2 linked regions of the Homo sapiens genome follow. The protein of the gene in region 1 purifies or fractionates together with the protein of each later gene. This does not show direct contact. Each region holds a gene or a part of one and is shown on either strand. Other genes may lie near its edges.

The links. Proteins that work in one complex are often made in the same cells at the same time.
Region 2: the proteins of PLEKHG7 (region 1) and RALGAPB purify together in Homo sapiens (affinity purification with mass spectrometry; 2 studies listed by BioGRID and IntAct, with this or other methods). This does not show direct contact.

Annotation. Positions count from the first base shown.
Region 1 is NC_000012.12:92,698,284-92,706,004, forward strand, and holds the start of PLEKHG7 (pleckstrin homology domain-containing family G member 7), read left to right. Parts: upstream 1-4,705; 5' UTR 4,706-4,849; intron 4,850-5,000; exon of another isoform or gene 5,001-5,005; coding exon of another isoform or gene 5,006-5,066; intron 5,067-7,721.
Region 2 is NC_000020.11:38,545,820-38,552,844, forward strand, and holds part of RALGAPB (ral GTPase-activating protein subunit beta), read left to right. Parts: intron 1-423; coding exon 424-611; intron 612-2,869; coding exon 2,870-2,976; intron 2,977-5,251; coding exon 5,252-5,404; intron 5,405-7,025. UniProt on the Homo sapiens protein: Non-catalytic subunit of the heterodimeric RalGAP1 and RalGAP2 complexes which act as GTPase activators for the Ras-like small GTPases RALA and RALB.

The sequences.
Region 1 (7,721 bases):
AAACACATGGAACCTAAATGGAAATCACGACTCTGGAAAGGAGAGTGGATCACGGGTGCAGGGAGGCTGCTAACAAATGTCTACTAAAACTCCAATTCCAAGAGGTGAGTTGGCACTGTTCCAAGACTCAAAAGGCAGGAAAGCATAGGGAACTCATGGGAAGCCCGGCCCATTGGGTCCTTTCACTTGAGCTCTAGGAATGCACATCTGAGGGAAGGCCTCAGATGTGGCTCCTGGTCATAAGTCTGAAAGCAAGCAGAGGACTGGCCATGCTGGGGAGCCCTTCATTCCTGAATGAGTGTGATGGCACCCAGCTTATGCTCTGATTGTGGCTGCAGCTGTCACTCTAGGTCCCTGCCCCTTAAACTGCAAAATTGCTGAGCAAGCAATCAGAACCTAGTGAAATCCTTTGTCAACCCCAAATCAACACTGGCCAAGCAAAGATACCCTTCTCTAAGGAATGGCAAATGGAATAACTACTGAGCATAGTAAAAGAGCTTACAGGTCATAAGAATAAAGCAAAAAAATTCTAGGATGGCTCAGTAGAACTACTTTTTTTGAAACAGAGTTATTTCAAAAAACAGAAAAAATTAGAAATTATAATTCATGATTCTTTGACTTTAATTTTTAGACCACATATAGTTGAGTTAATCATAACCCTCAGTTCATGACACACTAAATAATCCATATTTTTGACATGAATCAAGAACCTACAGTCTGCCACCATGAAAACATTTTGTAATAAAAAAGAATTGCAAAGCCAGGAGCGGTGGCTCACACCTGTAATCCCAGCACTTTGGGAGGCTGAGATGGATGGATTACCTGAGGTCAGGAATTCAAGACCAGCCTGACCAACATGGTGAAATCCCGTCTCTACTAAAAATACAAAATCAGCCGGGTATGGTGGCACATGCCTGTAATCCCAGCTATTTGGGAGGCCGAGGCAGGAGAATCACTTGAACCCAGGAGGTGGAGGTTGCAGTGAGCCAAGATGGCACCACTGCACTCCAGCCTGGGCAACAAGAGCAAAAGTCCATCTAAAAAAGAATTGAGCTGAAATACTCCTATTTATCTTGAAAGGAAAATTGATGTTAAAGTCATTATGGAAACAGTTAAAGGCAATTTGGACTATGCAGAAAATGGAACAAGCAAAATAGCCAAATAGAAAACAGTATCAAGAAATTATCCCTAAGGTAAAAGCAATAGCAATAATGTAGAGAAAAGATAAAATATCAGAGTGAAGCGATAACTTCACTCTGAAGAGTGAAGAAAGAGAATGAGGAAAGTGAAGAGTGAAGTGAAGACAAAGAAGAATGGGGACTGAAGGAAAAGAATCAGTGGAAGAGAGATAAATGTCAAATAGCACAGAAAATATTTCTTATTTAGAAAAAATATTTTAAATAACAGAGAGTACACACCAGATATTTGGTAAACAGAACCCACCATGACATATGCTAGGTAAACCTCTCTACCTTCAAATATAAAAGAAAAAACTTAAGCCTGGACAACATACCAAGAACGTATCTCTTTTTTTTTTTTTTTTTTTGAGATAGAGTCTCACTCGGTCGCCCAGGCTGGAGTGCAGTGGCGTGATCTCAGCTCACTGCAGGCTCCATCCCCTGGGGTTCAGGCCATTCTCCTGCCTCAGCCTCCCGAGTAGCCAGGACTACAGGCACCCGCCACCTCGCCCGGCTAATTTTTTGTATTTTTAGTAGAGACGGGGTTTCACCGTGTTAGCCAGGATGGTCTCGATCTCCTGACCTCGTGATCTGCCCGCCTCTGCCTCCCAAAGTGCTGGGATTACAGGCGTGAGCCACCATGCCCGGCCAACCCTATCTTTTAAAAAAATTCAAAATAAAAAATTAGCAGCATTCCCTGTAGTCCCAGCTACTGGGGAGGCTAAGGCAAGAGGACCACTTGAGCCCAGGAGTTTGAGATCAGCTTGATATAGCAAGACCTAATCCCAATAAAATTATATATATATAATGTTCTATTGTATTGTGTGTGTATATATATATTTCACACTTCAATAGAACATACACAATCTCACAAAGAAGTAAAAAAAAATTTAAGAGTATGGTACCCAGCAAAGAGTAAATATTCTATTGACCTCCTATTTCAACTATTAATGACTGAAATCATGCAAAAATGTCTACAGACCTTTAAAGGAAAATACCATGTTGCAAGAATTCCATGCCCTGCACATGTGATAGCAAAATAAAGTCATTTTGGGGTATGAAACAGCTCAGAATATGTACTACCTAGAAACTTTTCCTAAATAAATACCTCAGAAATATTGAAAGATATCAAGATGCATTGATATTAATCTGATAGTCACCTTTTTTTGTTTTGGTTTGTTTTTGAGAGACAGGATCTTTCTCTGTCACCCAGACTGCAGTACAGTGGCATGATCACGGCTCACTGCAACCTCAGCCCAAGCATTCCTCCCACTTCAGCCTCCCAAGTAGCTGGGACTACAGGTGCCCAACACCACACCCAACTAATTTTTGTATTTTTTGTGGAGACGGGGTTTCAGCATGTTGCCCAGGCTGGTCCCAAACTCCTGGGCTCAATCAGTCTGCCCACCTTGGCCTTCCAAAGTGCTGGGATTACAGGCATCAGCCACTGTGCCCAGCTATATTAATCATTGTAAATATGGTACAACTGAATTTTTGTAGCCCTAAAACCTAAAAGGAAGCTCAAATAAATCTCATACCTCTTTTCAACAACTAGAAAGAAAATATCTTTTAGGAATTTGCCAATTCAAAGCCATAAAGTAAGCAAACCAGGATGTCATCTTTTAGCATAGACATACTTTTTAAGGTATACTTTTTATTGAAGCAAAGCATACATAAACGTAAAACTACACACAGGCAAAAAATGCTGAGGCGAGCTGCTCCCTCTGCGATATTGGAGAGCACCTCCATGTGTCATCTGAGAAAGGGCCACAGTGAGGTTGCCCCAGGTTCTTAAAGGAAAAGCTGACTCTGGGGTGTCCCTTCCCCACCCAAAATGCCTCCCTGTTGCCATCTCCTTGACAAATCAGATGGAGGTGGCACATTTTTTTCCGTGATAATCTTTTGTGACCTTTCTATAAGACTCTTAATTTCCTTCTTGAAGTTACAACCAGAGGTTGGAAGTTTTTGCATTGGGATCAAGTATTCCATTATCATTATCCCCTAGGAGAGACAGCTTTACAATCCCATGTGCGTGAGGGGATTGGTAGAAAAGAGTATGACCTTCCTTCCACAAACTAAAAGCTAAAAGACTTTATTCATTTTTTTCCTTCCCAAATTGAAGCAATTCACTTCTAGACATCCTTGGCAGGAGCTCAGAACTGTTTATGCAGGCTCCATGCAGGCAAAATATTTTTTGATATCCTGCTTTTGGTTGAGTCATGGTAATGTTGGCAATGGTGGTGAGGGCAGGAGATCAAGTCATTTTTCAAAGTTCTAAGTAAATGATGTTCTAGTAAGATCAATATGAGAGAATTAAAGACTAATATAAAGTTTATCACAAGGCCAACATCTATAAGTTAGACCTTTTTTTCTTTTCCTCTAAGGGCAGTGGTTCTCAAATTTTAACCCATGTAAGAATCACCTGGAAGTCTTGTTAAACACAGACTTCTGGCTGGGCACAGTGGCTCACACCTGTAATCCCAGCACTTTGGGAGGCCGAAGTGGGTGGACCACCTGAGGTCAGGAGTTCGGACAGCCTGGCCAATATGGTGAAACCCCGTCTGTACTAAAAATACAAAAGTTAGCCGGGCCCTGGTGGTGTGCACCTGTAATCTCAGCTACACAGGAAGCTGAGGTAGGAGAATCGCTTGAACCCAGGAGGTGGAGGTTGCAGTGAGCTGAGATCGTGCCACTGCACTCCAGCCTGAGTGACAGAGTGAGACCCTGTCTCAAAAAAAAACCACGGACTTCTGACCCCATCCCAGAGTTCCAGGGGTTGGAGAGCATGGAGGGGGAAGATTTTTCCTTTCTAACAAGTTCTCAAGTCATAGTGATACTGCTGGTCCAGGGACCCTACTTTAAGAACTACCGACCTCAGGGAACCTTCACAGTAAGTATCTGTAATGAGTCCAATCAATGAAAACTTCAGTGAATTAGACTTCATTAGAATTACTTCAACTTTGTTTTGGGAAAGTCTATAGACATTTTTGTTTAATGCTGCATACATATGCATTATCTCCACCTAGGCATCAAATAAATATTCTTTGGGGTACTGATCTAATGAGAATACTGGTAGATATAAATGCTCTTCCATTTGCATTTTAATTATTTGAAAACTAATGTTCACAAATTCACTCCCTGGTGCTCTAATCATTTCCTCTACTATTCAATGCTTATCAAAGCAAGTCATTAATAAAATAGATCAACACAAAATGTTTTATGATGTGAAGAAAGTAGAGTCCCAAAGAATGCATCTCACAACCTTAGAGAAAATAAATGAAATAGAAACCTAGAACTGCTTCACTGAACTATGAGTGATGATTTGTTGAATGCCTCAAGAGGAAGTAAAAAGTTACATTTGCATCATTTCTGTATTTGATCAGCCGTTGTTTACCTGACTTGTTCTTAGGCTGCCTTAGATTCTGAGCTGGCTTCCCTTTAGGCTTTTTCATAAACAAATAACTGGAAATGTCTCTAAGGAGGGGAGAGACCAGTTCCTCATTGCAGCTGGTAGCAAGGTTGCTTTCACTCAGCCAGGAGGACGCATTGTTACAGGTGTGGAACTTGTTGCTCCGAGCCCTCGCCTGGCAGCTCACTCTGGATCTGCGGGTTCTGAGGAGCCTCGGGACCCACCTGGGTGCAGTTGCCTTCAGGGACAGACCATCTTACAGGTATTAAAGGCAACATTCAGCTGCTTTCTGGGTTTCTCTCTTGCACTTTCCTTTTGTCCTATTGCTATCAGTTTCGCTTGTTTTGCTGATCTCTCCAGGTCTCATTAGAATTAGTGAATCATTAACCTGCAATGGTTTCATTTCTAGTACAGTGAGATGGCTTCCCCAACAGTGTGGGTGGGTGTTTGCTGGATTCTCAAAGCTTGGAAGGTCAAAGGTTGGTGAATTTTCTTTATGGTGACCATGTATTAATTTCCTCTTTTAAACATAAAGAAGAGTTAGCATGAATGGATTGACTTGTTAACTTTTGATTCTACCAGATCCACTGGGTGTAGTCATTTAGGGAAAGCTTCCCAGGAGCCTTAGCCATTATCTCATTTAATTTCTGCAACAGGCCTGTGAGGGAGGTTCTTTGATGTCCTCTTGGTAAATGCTGCATGGCAGTTGGCAGAGGAGAAGTGGCTTGTCCTAGGTCACACAGCCAATTGGCGGTGATACTGGAAGAGAAACCAGACCCATTTCTTCTGGTGCTTGAGCTCTTCCTGCCTTTCTGCAAACCACCTCCCTAAGCCCTGCTGTTTTTAAAGTTTCTCCATTTCCGCAGTGCATCATGTCGGCAGTTACTATTGCCTTGGTTCCAATATTTAAGACAGTGGCTAATAAATAATTCTTACCGATGTGAATCCTATTGGCCATAAATAACTTCCTACCAGCAGCTACACCCCTGTGTCTGAACGACTACAAAGGAAACCCAAAGCCGTATCCTAACCCCTCAAAAGAGGAGAGGAAAAGGCCAGAAGGACAGAGGGGAAACCCAAAGACTAAGAAATCTGATCTAACTATTATGCAAGTGCCTATGCAAATATACTGAATTCCTTTAACATTGTTGCTGCCTAGAACTTGGACAGTCTTCTAAAGGAGAAAAATAATAGAACGGCCCTGATTGTATGTATGTGTGAAAGTACCTATTGATTCAAAATTAGCTGGGTGGGGTGGTAAGCATCCATAGCCCCAACTACTCAGGAGCACTGCAGCATGAGGATTCTGTGAGGCTAGGAGTTTGAGGTTACAGTGCGATATGATCACACCTCTGCACTCAGCCTGGGCGACAGAGCCAGACTCCATCTCTAAAAAGAAAAAAAAAAAGAAAGAAAGTACCTATAGATTTGATGCTCAGCTCAGCATTTGTTTGTTGGGAGAATGAGGAACTGGCCTCTCCATGTAGCAACAATGTACCTTATTTTATCAATGGTAGGGAGGGACCATTTCATACCTCTCCAGCAATGTTGGTATCAACCTTCAGAGCAGCCTCCAGGAATTACCAATCTAAAACCAAAACTAGTACAATCTCACCTTAACTGAACATAAGTTTCCTAAACTGGCATTGCCCTCTTTCCTCCACTCTGCAAAAAAGGGTACCTCATGGGTTTTAGTTCTACATGTGAAGTTCTATAACAATTGAGTCCTCAGCTCAAAATAAAGCAAACACAACATTAAGAATTTTAGATTTCTTTTGTGAATAAGAGTTGAATTGACGTTAGTTTGCATCTAAGTTGTTCCTCAAACAACTCACCAGTCTGAAATCCAGTACCTGTTAGTTTCATTTGGCATTTTAAAAAGGTTTTTATAGAGATGGGGTCTCACTATGTTGCCCAGGCTGGTCTTGAACTTCTAGGCTCAAGGGATCCTCCCGCCTTTGCCTCCCAAAGTGCTCGGATTACAGGCATGAGCCTCTGTGCCTGGACTTACTTGACCTTAAACAAGGTAAGAGTCAGGGAGTAAAATAAGAGACCACAAAGTCCCCAAAATCAATGTCAAGTCACAACATTGTCATGACAATGTCATAACATTGAGCTCCTCCTCTACTGATAGGAATAGATCTAACAACCTATTAATTATCTATTCACAAGGTTGTTGGACTTCTATGACTGACACAGATTAAAAGAAACAAAGAGGAGAGAGTGGTTGCCATAGGCAAGTACAAAAAGCATAGTGAGAAGTAAGGAATAAAAATTAGGGAGTACATTGGTGTGGGGCCATTTGGTGTGGGAGTGAATATTCAGATGCTATAGAAGCCTGTAACAATTATTGTATTCTCCACAGAACTATAGTAAACATAGTAGTAATCACTGTATTTTGGCAAAGTACTAGAATGATAGTCAACAGAATGAGGTCAGGTTATAAGGAAAAGGTTTATTGGTTTTCAGCCTTCTCTATATCAAGTTAAAGAAGCAAATAATACACCCTAGAAAAGTTCTACTAAAAAGTATTGCCCATGCAATTAAAATTATAAGAAGTAAATTATTAGCCATTCTTAAATTTTGGCTATCCAAATGTGGGCAAAGGGTTTCAGATTGCTGAGTTCTGCTTTAGAATGATAAACTTACTAAAACTATTATTGATGATCTTGGAATATACGGTCAACTACTAATGTTCCATCCACAAACAATCCACGCACAGTCTGAAGCCACCTCCCATGCCATCTGCGGCCAGGGAAGATGGGTCTCTCGCCTGTCCCACAGTCCCACACCTGGTCTGCAAATCATCAAGCATCAACTCTCATGCCATAAGGGATGTGTAAGGATTGATGTTTTCCCACACATACCTTCTTCATGTGGGAAAGTACAGAATAACGAAACTGCAATAAGCCACTCCCATGAATCAAGCTGTGAAATGGAAGGGTCAGCTTTTCTTGAGCATGAGAAGAGATAATTCTGCATGCATAGATTGCAAAAAACACCTCCAATCATGAACAGTAGGGTACCTGGTGATGTCTGGGTTTTTCTTTTCAAACCTGCAAGTCCTTTTTCCAAAATGTAAAGATTGATAGAATCTAAGATAAAAGACGTTGTCAGATACTTTACATCAGTTA
Region 2 (7,025 bases), on another chromosome or scaffold:
GGTTTTCTAAAATGGGATAGAGACGGTTGTCACAAAGCATATGGAATATGAGCTTGCTGTGTTCCATGCAAGATTCTAAGATATCAGATAGGTTGCTGGTAAGGGAGTAGGTCACTAAGATCAAATTATACCAGCCTAACTGCATTTTCTGTTCCGGATATTGACCAGACTGGAAAGGCAGATTAAATGTCTCTGAAATAAAGACATACAGGTATGCATCTGGGGTAATGGGCTTTTTAATCTTGGAGGGGAGAGTCTGGACAGCATGCCATGGCATTCACCACAAGGAGTAAATCTGACCTGTCAAGAAGCATGGCTGTGGTCAATTAAAATTCAGAAGAGTGGAAGGGGACACATTGATGCACAAGGTAAACTGAAGATTTTGCTTTGGGAATTAACTGTTATCTTTTCCATTCTCCATAGCATTATGCAGTTGCTCGGCGCATTTCCTTCACCTAGTGGTCCTGCCTCTCCTTGTAGTCTTGTGAATGAGACCACTTTGATTAAATACTCCAGGCTGCCAACCATAAACAAGCATAGTTTCCGGTACTTTGTCTTGGATAACAGTGTCATCCTGGCAATGCTGGAACAACCTCTTGGAAATGAGCAGAGTAAGTTTATAGTACTTTGAGCCTTCTCTACTGCTTAATCAGTGTTACCAGTACCATGAAGCTGTTTCCAGGATCAGGGAAGGACAGCCTACAGATTCTAAGTAGGTCAGAAAGATTTCTAGCTGTGGGACAATAGCACCTGAAAAATAGGGGGGCAAAAAAATAGAATATACATATTACATAGAGTCTTTTAAAGGCTCTTGATGTGCATCTGAACTAGCTCTGTAGTTTTATAAAAGGTGGTGTTTTAGTGGGTTCCATTGTGTTGTTTATCTTTGTCACTTTTTCTTCCCCCTTGAACTTCGGATCCTGCCCCTCTGCTCCCCTCCCTCTCACTCCTCATGTTCTGTATCAATTGTTGGTGCTACCTACACAGGCTAGAAACTTGAGGAGTTATCTTTACCTGCCCCTTCCTGTTACTCACTTATATAATTAGTTTCTAAGTTTCCATCTTCCCAGGGACCCTTGAATTTTTCCTTTCCTCTGTATTTTCCCAATACATCCAAGTGCAGGTCCTTATTATTTCTCACCTAGATTATTACAGCTGTTTCCTACCTACTCTGATTCCCTCAACCCCTAAACCCCTTGCCAGTTCTAACATGTGTTTTCCCTACTTTCATCCTACTTGCTGCCACCATAGTATTCATCTTCAACCACAAATGACCATGCCAGTGCCCTACTGAAAATCCTTCAGTGATTTTCCATTAACACAACATGCACTGTTTTCCTCCTTTCCCTCCCCCTCAGTTATAAGCCATCTCACAATATGTGATTATCACTGCGACCCAAACTATCCACAAGTACATTTTTTTTTTCTGATGGTAATTGGCATCAGCCAGTATGTAAAAGAAGCATGTTCTCAGACCCTTATTGCTGGGAAGGGGAAGGAAAGTGAAGGTTACAGAATCTGTGGGTATAAAGTGACCCATGGAGTCACCTGGTATACAATTCCCTTAGTTATGAGTGAAAAAACTCAGGCTCACAGAGGGTATATGACTTGCCCAGGGTTACTTGGGACTAGAGCCCAGATTTTCTAAACCCTGTATTGTCCCTTTCTATTATTATTGTCGCACAGTGATAGGATTTGCTCAGTGATTAAAGATTTGCCTTCTTGCCTTTGTAAAGGTGAAGAGTTCTGTGCCAGTTTTGTTGATTATATGAGTAAGAGCTCATAAATCCATGAAGTGAAAGTGAGACATTTCCCTGCAGTTTGAGATGAAAAGAATACCATCATAAACTTCTGTTGTGTTGTGGTGAGATGCGGTGACATTAATGTGAAATGGAATGGTGCCTTTTATTATTGTCTAACTTCAGAACTGCTACTCCCAAGTCTTTTCTACAGGCATCTCATCCTTCTCTACCCTAGACATGGAGCTTGCTTGGCTTTCTTTCCTAGCCTGTGCCTGTTCATGATTCCTCCAGCCTCCTACTCCAAGCCATCTGCTGAGGAGTCTGCAAAATCCCAGTGTCCCCTTCAGGCTTCCTGGCCTTTTTCCAGCTTTTTAAAGACTCTCCTACTTTCATTCCAAATAATTTCATTGCATAGGAAGTGTACCAAAAATACAAGCAATTGGAATTGTATAGATTTACAAGGACATTTTAATAGTTTATTGTAATAATAAGAAATTATAGAGAAGTTTGAAGGCGTTTGACTCCCATATCTGAGACGGAAGAATAAAAAAAAGGATCTGGGTCACTCGGGAAGTCCATCCTGAGTGTTTTTTTTAACACCCCCATCATGTCCCTGAACTTCTGCTGAGATGGAACAGTGCCTGCCTGTGGTGGGCAGTGGTACACAAAGGCATGGGCAGATATAACACTAACACTGCAAACACCCAGTCTGTCTTTCTACACTTAAGTTGTTCCCAACATTGGGAGGTTAAGAGTATTTACTAGGACAGTGTTTCCCACAAATGTGTACATGTACCATTGGAGGTATGTGAGATGATCTTAGTTGATACATTAGTGAACATTATTTTATGTATTTTTAAGCATGTGCTTTAAAATTATATAATTAGTACATGCCAAAATTCATGATTTTCCATTTAGAGATGCACAAGAGTGGTTGATACAAAGTAATAGTACTTACAGTACACGGGTATGGGTACGGCAGAAACCACAGAAGTGGTACACAAAAGATCAAAGCTTAGGAAACACTGTTGGGCCTTTGATTATGAGAAGCTCTGCAGTTGATAACAAGTTTATTTTAAATGGTTGTTGTCTGAAATTAAAACTTTTATATACATATTTTATTCTAGATGATTTTTTCCCCTCTGTCACTGTGCTGGTCCGGGGAATGTCTGGAAGACTTGCTTGGGCACAACAGCTTTGTCTTTTACCCAGAGGAGCAAAAGCAAATCAGAAGGTATTCATCAGAAGTTACAGGGAAGTGTGTGTGTGTTTTGTAATTTAAAGGTTAGGTAACATTCCAACAGAAGACACAGATCAAATAAATATTTTTGATCCCTAGCCAGATTCTCAGTCAGTGGGTTCATATCAGAATCATCTAGGAACCTAGAATTCCAGATGTACTCAATTACTCTTTAAAGACATGTTCAAGGCAGGTGTCTTTTCAAAAAGCTTTCCAGGTGATTCTGACATCTACTTAGGAGTAATTGCTGTTGTGGACAATGGCCCCAGTTTTTTCCATGTAATTTTACAAATGTAATAAAAGTCAGATATATACCATACGTGAAAAAAATTTGGTGGGACTTTTGATTTGTCCGCAACAGGACTTAGTTTGAAATTGTTTTATATGATTTGTTCTTATATAATAATTGGTAATATATTGTATAAATTTTATTTTTTTTATAAAGAGTCAGGGTCTTGTTCTGTTGCCCAGACTGGAGTGCAGTGGTGTAATCATAGCTCACTGCAGCCTCAAGCTCCTGGGCTCCAGTGATCCTCTTGCCTCATCCTCCTGAGTAGCTGAGACTGTAGGCACATGCCATGGCACCCAGCTCATTTTTAAAATTTTTTGTAGAGATAGGGTCTTGCTTTGTTGCCCAGGCTGATCCCAAACTTCTGTCTTCAAGTGATCTTCCCACCTCAGCTTCCCAAAGTGTTAGGATTACAGATGTGAGCTGTCACACCCAGCCTAATTAAAAAAAAAAAAAAAAATATATATATATATACACACACACACACATACATATACACACACACACACACATATGTATGCTGTGTATAATTTAATGAAATCTTTTGGGGTGCAGTTTATTTTATTACATTTGTAATTATGTGAATAATACTTGAGAAGTTGGAAAAATTCAGATAACGAAGAAATTTTAAATCACCTTTACTCACTATCCAGAGGAATATAACCACTGCTAATATTTTATTGGATTTCCTTCCCTTTTTTTCTTTTCATACACAATAACACTTGAATAGAATTTGAGTCATTTTGTATACTGCTCTTTTCATTTATAACATTGTAAGCTTTTATTTCTGCTATTAAAAATATAAAATGTCCAACAATGATAGACTGGATTAAGAAAATGTGGCACATATACACCATGGAACACTATGCAGCCATAAAAAATGATGAGTTCATGTCCTTTGTAGGGACATGGATGAAATTGGAAATCATCATTCTCAGTAAACTATCGCAAGAACAAAAAACCAAACACCGCATATTCTCACTCATAGGTGGGAATTGAACAGTGGGAACACATGGACACAGGAGGGGGAACATCACACTCTGGGGCCTGTTGTCGGGTAGGGGGAGTGGGGAGGGATAGCAATGGGAGATATACCTAATGCTAGATGACGAGTTAGTGGGTGCAGCGCACCAGCATGTCACATGTATACATATTTAACTAACCTGCACATTATGCACATGTACCCTAAAACTTAAAGTATCATAATAAAAAAATGTGATTAAAAAAAATTTAAAATGTGACTTAATATTTCACTAGCATTTGAGAGACACCACAAAATTGGAGCATGTGCCTAAAATCATTTAATATCTTAGATGTCTCTGTTAGATGTGATGTGTTTATCACCCAGTCCTCCATTTTTTTGGAGGGGGCAGTACAGAGCACATCCTGTCATCAACTCTGTAAGCCAGTAAGTTAGCATTGAAGACTGAAGAGGAAGGGGACCAGGAAAGGAGCTAAAATTTGTTTAGGGTTCACCATGTACCCATATACATATTAAAGCATGGATTTGGAGCTGTGAAGACCTAGATTTGGTGCCCATACTCTCAATTAAGCCGTATTAAGATTCTTGTTAAAATCACTTTCTAGAGATGCCCAGTGAAGCCAAACTTGTCTTTAATTATATTGAATGATGTGAGAGCCCCTGGGGAAGAGAGTTTGAGTCTTAAAGCTCCAAAATGCTATACCCATTGGATAACCACTGAATGTGGGAGATTCAGGCCTGCAGCAGTAGAGGTCCACAGCCCATTTGTCAGTCATTAGATCTATAAGAAGTCGATGAATATTTTTAGAAAAATAGAGTACACAGGGGCACAGGCTGCTTCCCTTTGCTGTTATCTGTAGCATTTGCAGGTTCTGAGTGAGTTTTTGTGACATGTAATCCTAGGGAAACACAGGCATCTAAGAGACCAGGGAAATACATGTCATTACAGATGGGTATTGGACCCTGTGTAATAAACATAATGTTACTTGTTTTAACAGCTTTTTGTACCTGAACCTCGCCCAGTTCCTAAAAATGACGTTGGATTTAAATATTCTGTGAAACATCGGCCATTTCCTGAAGAGGTGGACAAGATTCCTTTTGTGAAAGCAGATCTCAGCATTCCAGATTTGCATGAAATAGTCACTGAAGAAGTAAGTACATTATTTTTAGCTGTTGTCAAGGGGATGAATAGAAACATTCTTACGACTTCCTTGGTCAAGACAATGCTTTTAGTGTTGTTGGAGATGATTTTTAAGATGACATGGGCCTCCATCATCCAGGAGGTTGCCATGTTTAAGACGAATATAGATTGTGGCTGATCGAAAGGAACTGCATATCTCTTAGAGGTGTTGCTGGGCTGCCTGGCTGTTCGTGGTAGGTTTCAGTACTGTAGTGACATGATCAGACTCTGGTAGTAGAGTTATTTGGAAAAGGAAGACCAGTTCAGAGACTATTATGAGAATCTAAGTCTTTATAAGAAAGGAAGGACTATTTCACTCATATGGAATTTTAATATATAAAATGTATTGTGGAGGTAGATCCAAGCAGTCTTGAATTGGTGAGGGAAGGAAAAGAGCCAAAGAATTTCAGATTTTGAGCTTGAGTGACAAAGAGATATCAGTGCCATTTACAGAAATGCAGACATTAGGAAGAGGATAGATTTGGGAAGATGGGAAAAATTTATTTGGCTTTGGATTAATTTAGAGAGTTAATTAAGATAACTGTCTCTTAGGTCAAGGGAGAAGAATTTTAAGAAGTCGGGGACAGAAGTATGTCAGGACATGAGAGAACAGAAGAGCAGGAATGGAGGAAGGGCTACACTCTCCAATGCTGGAGAGACCAGGGAGAAGAAGGAATAGAAAAAGTCCCCTGAATTTTGGCATGAAATTTAGGTGACCTTTGAGAACAGGTGTGTACAGTAGGAGGGATAATTCAAAGGGCTGGGGAGTGAATGTATTGAGGGACAGGCAGTGAATAGAAACTACACTGTTAACAGTAAAGGCAAGGGTACAGAATGGGTAATATTATAGCTTAAGGAAATGGCCTCGTTAAGGAAAGAAAAGGCTGATTTTTTTTTTTTTTTCTGAGATGGAGTTTCGCTCTTGTTGCCCAGACTAGAGTACAGTTGTGCATTCTCAGCTCACTGCAATCTCCGCCTCCCGGGTTCAAGTGATTCTCCTACCTCAGCCTCCCAAGTAGCTGTGATTACAGGCGCATGCCACCATGCCTGGCCAATTTTTGTATTTTTAGTAGAGACGGGATTTCACCATGTTGGCCAAGCCGGTCTCGAACTCCTGACCTCAGGTGATCCACCCTCCTTTGCCTCCCCTCAAAGTGCTGAGAATTACAGGTGTAAGCCATCGCACCCGGCCAGAAAAGGCTAGTTTTTAAATATTTTTTTACATTCAAGGATGTGAGGATTATGAACATGCTTATAGATTGAAAGGAAGAAACCAGTAGAGAGGAGTCTGGCTAACACTGTAAGATGGGCAGTGGGACTTACAAGTAATAGAGGCAGTAGGGTCAAGAGTCTAGTCTAGAAAAGAGATGCTTCTAAGACAGAAGGAGAGAGTAGGTGAAGGTTCAGAGACATTTAGAGAGGAAAGGAGGGAAATTGAAGAAGTTTATGAAAATTTTAATCCTGGTTCTTGGCAGTGTAATAGGGGATCCCAGACAGTTCTTAAGAATTGCCAGGCAGTGCAGCTGAGGTTAAGTAGCATTATCTATAGTGAAGTTATTTAACTCACTCTGCTGACTTTCTTCAAAAGTCCT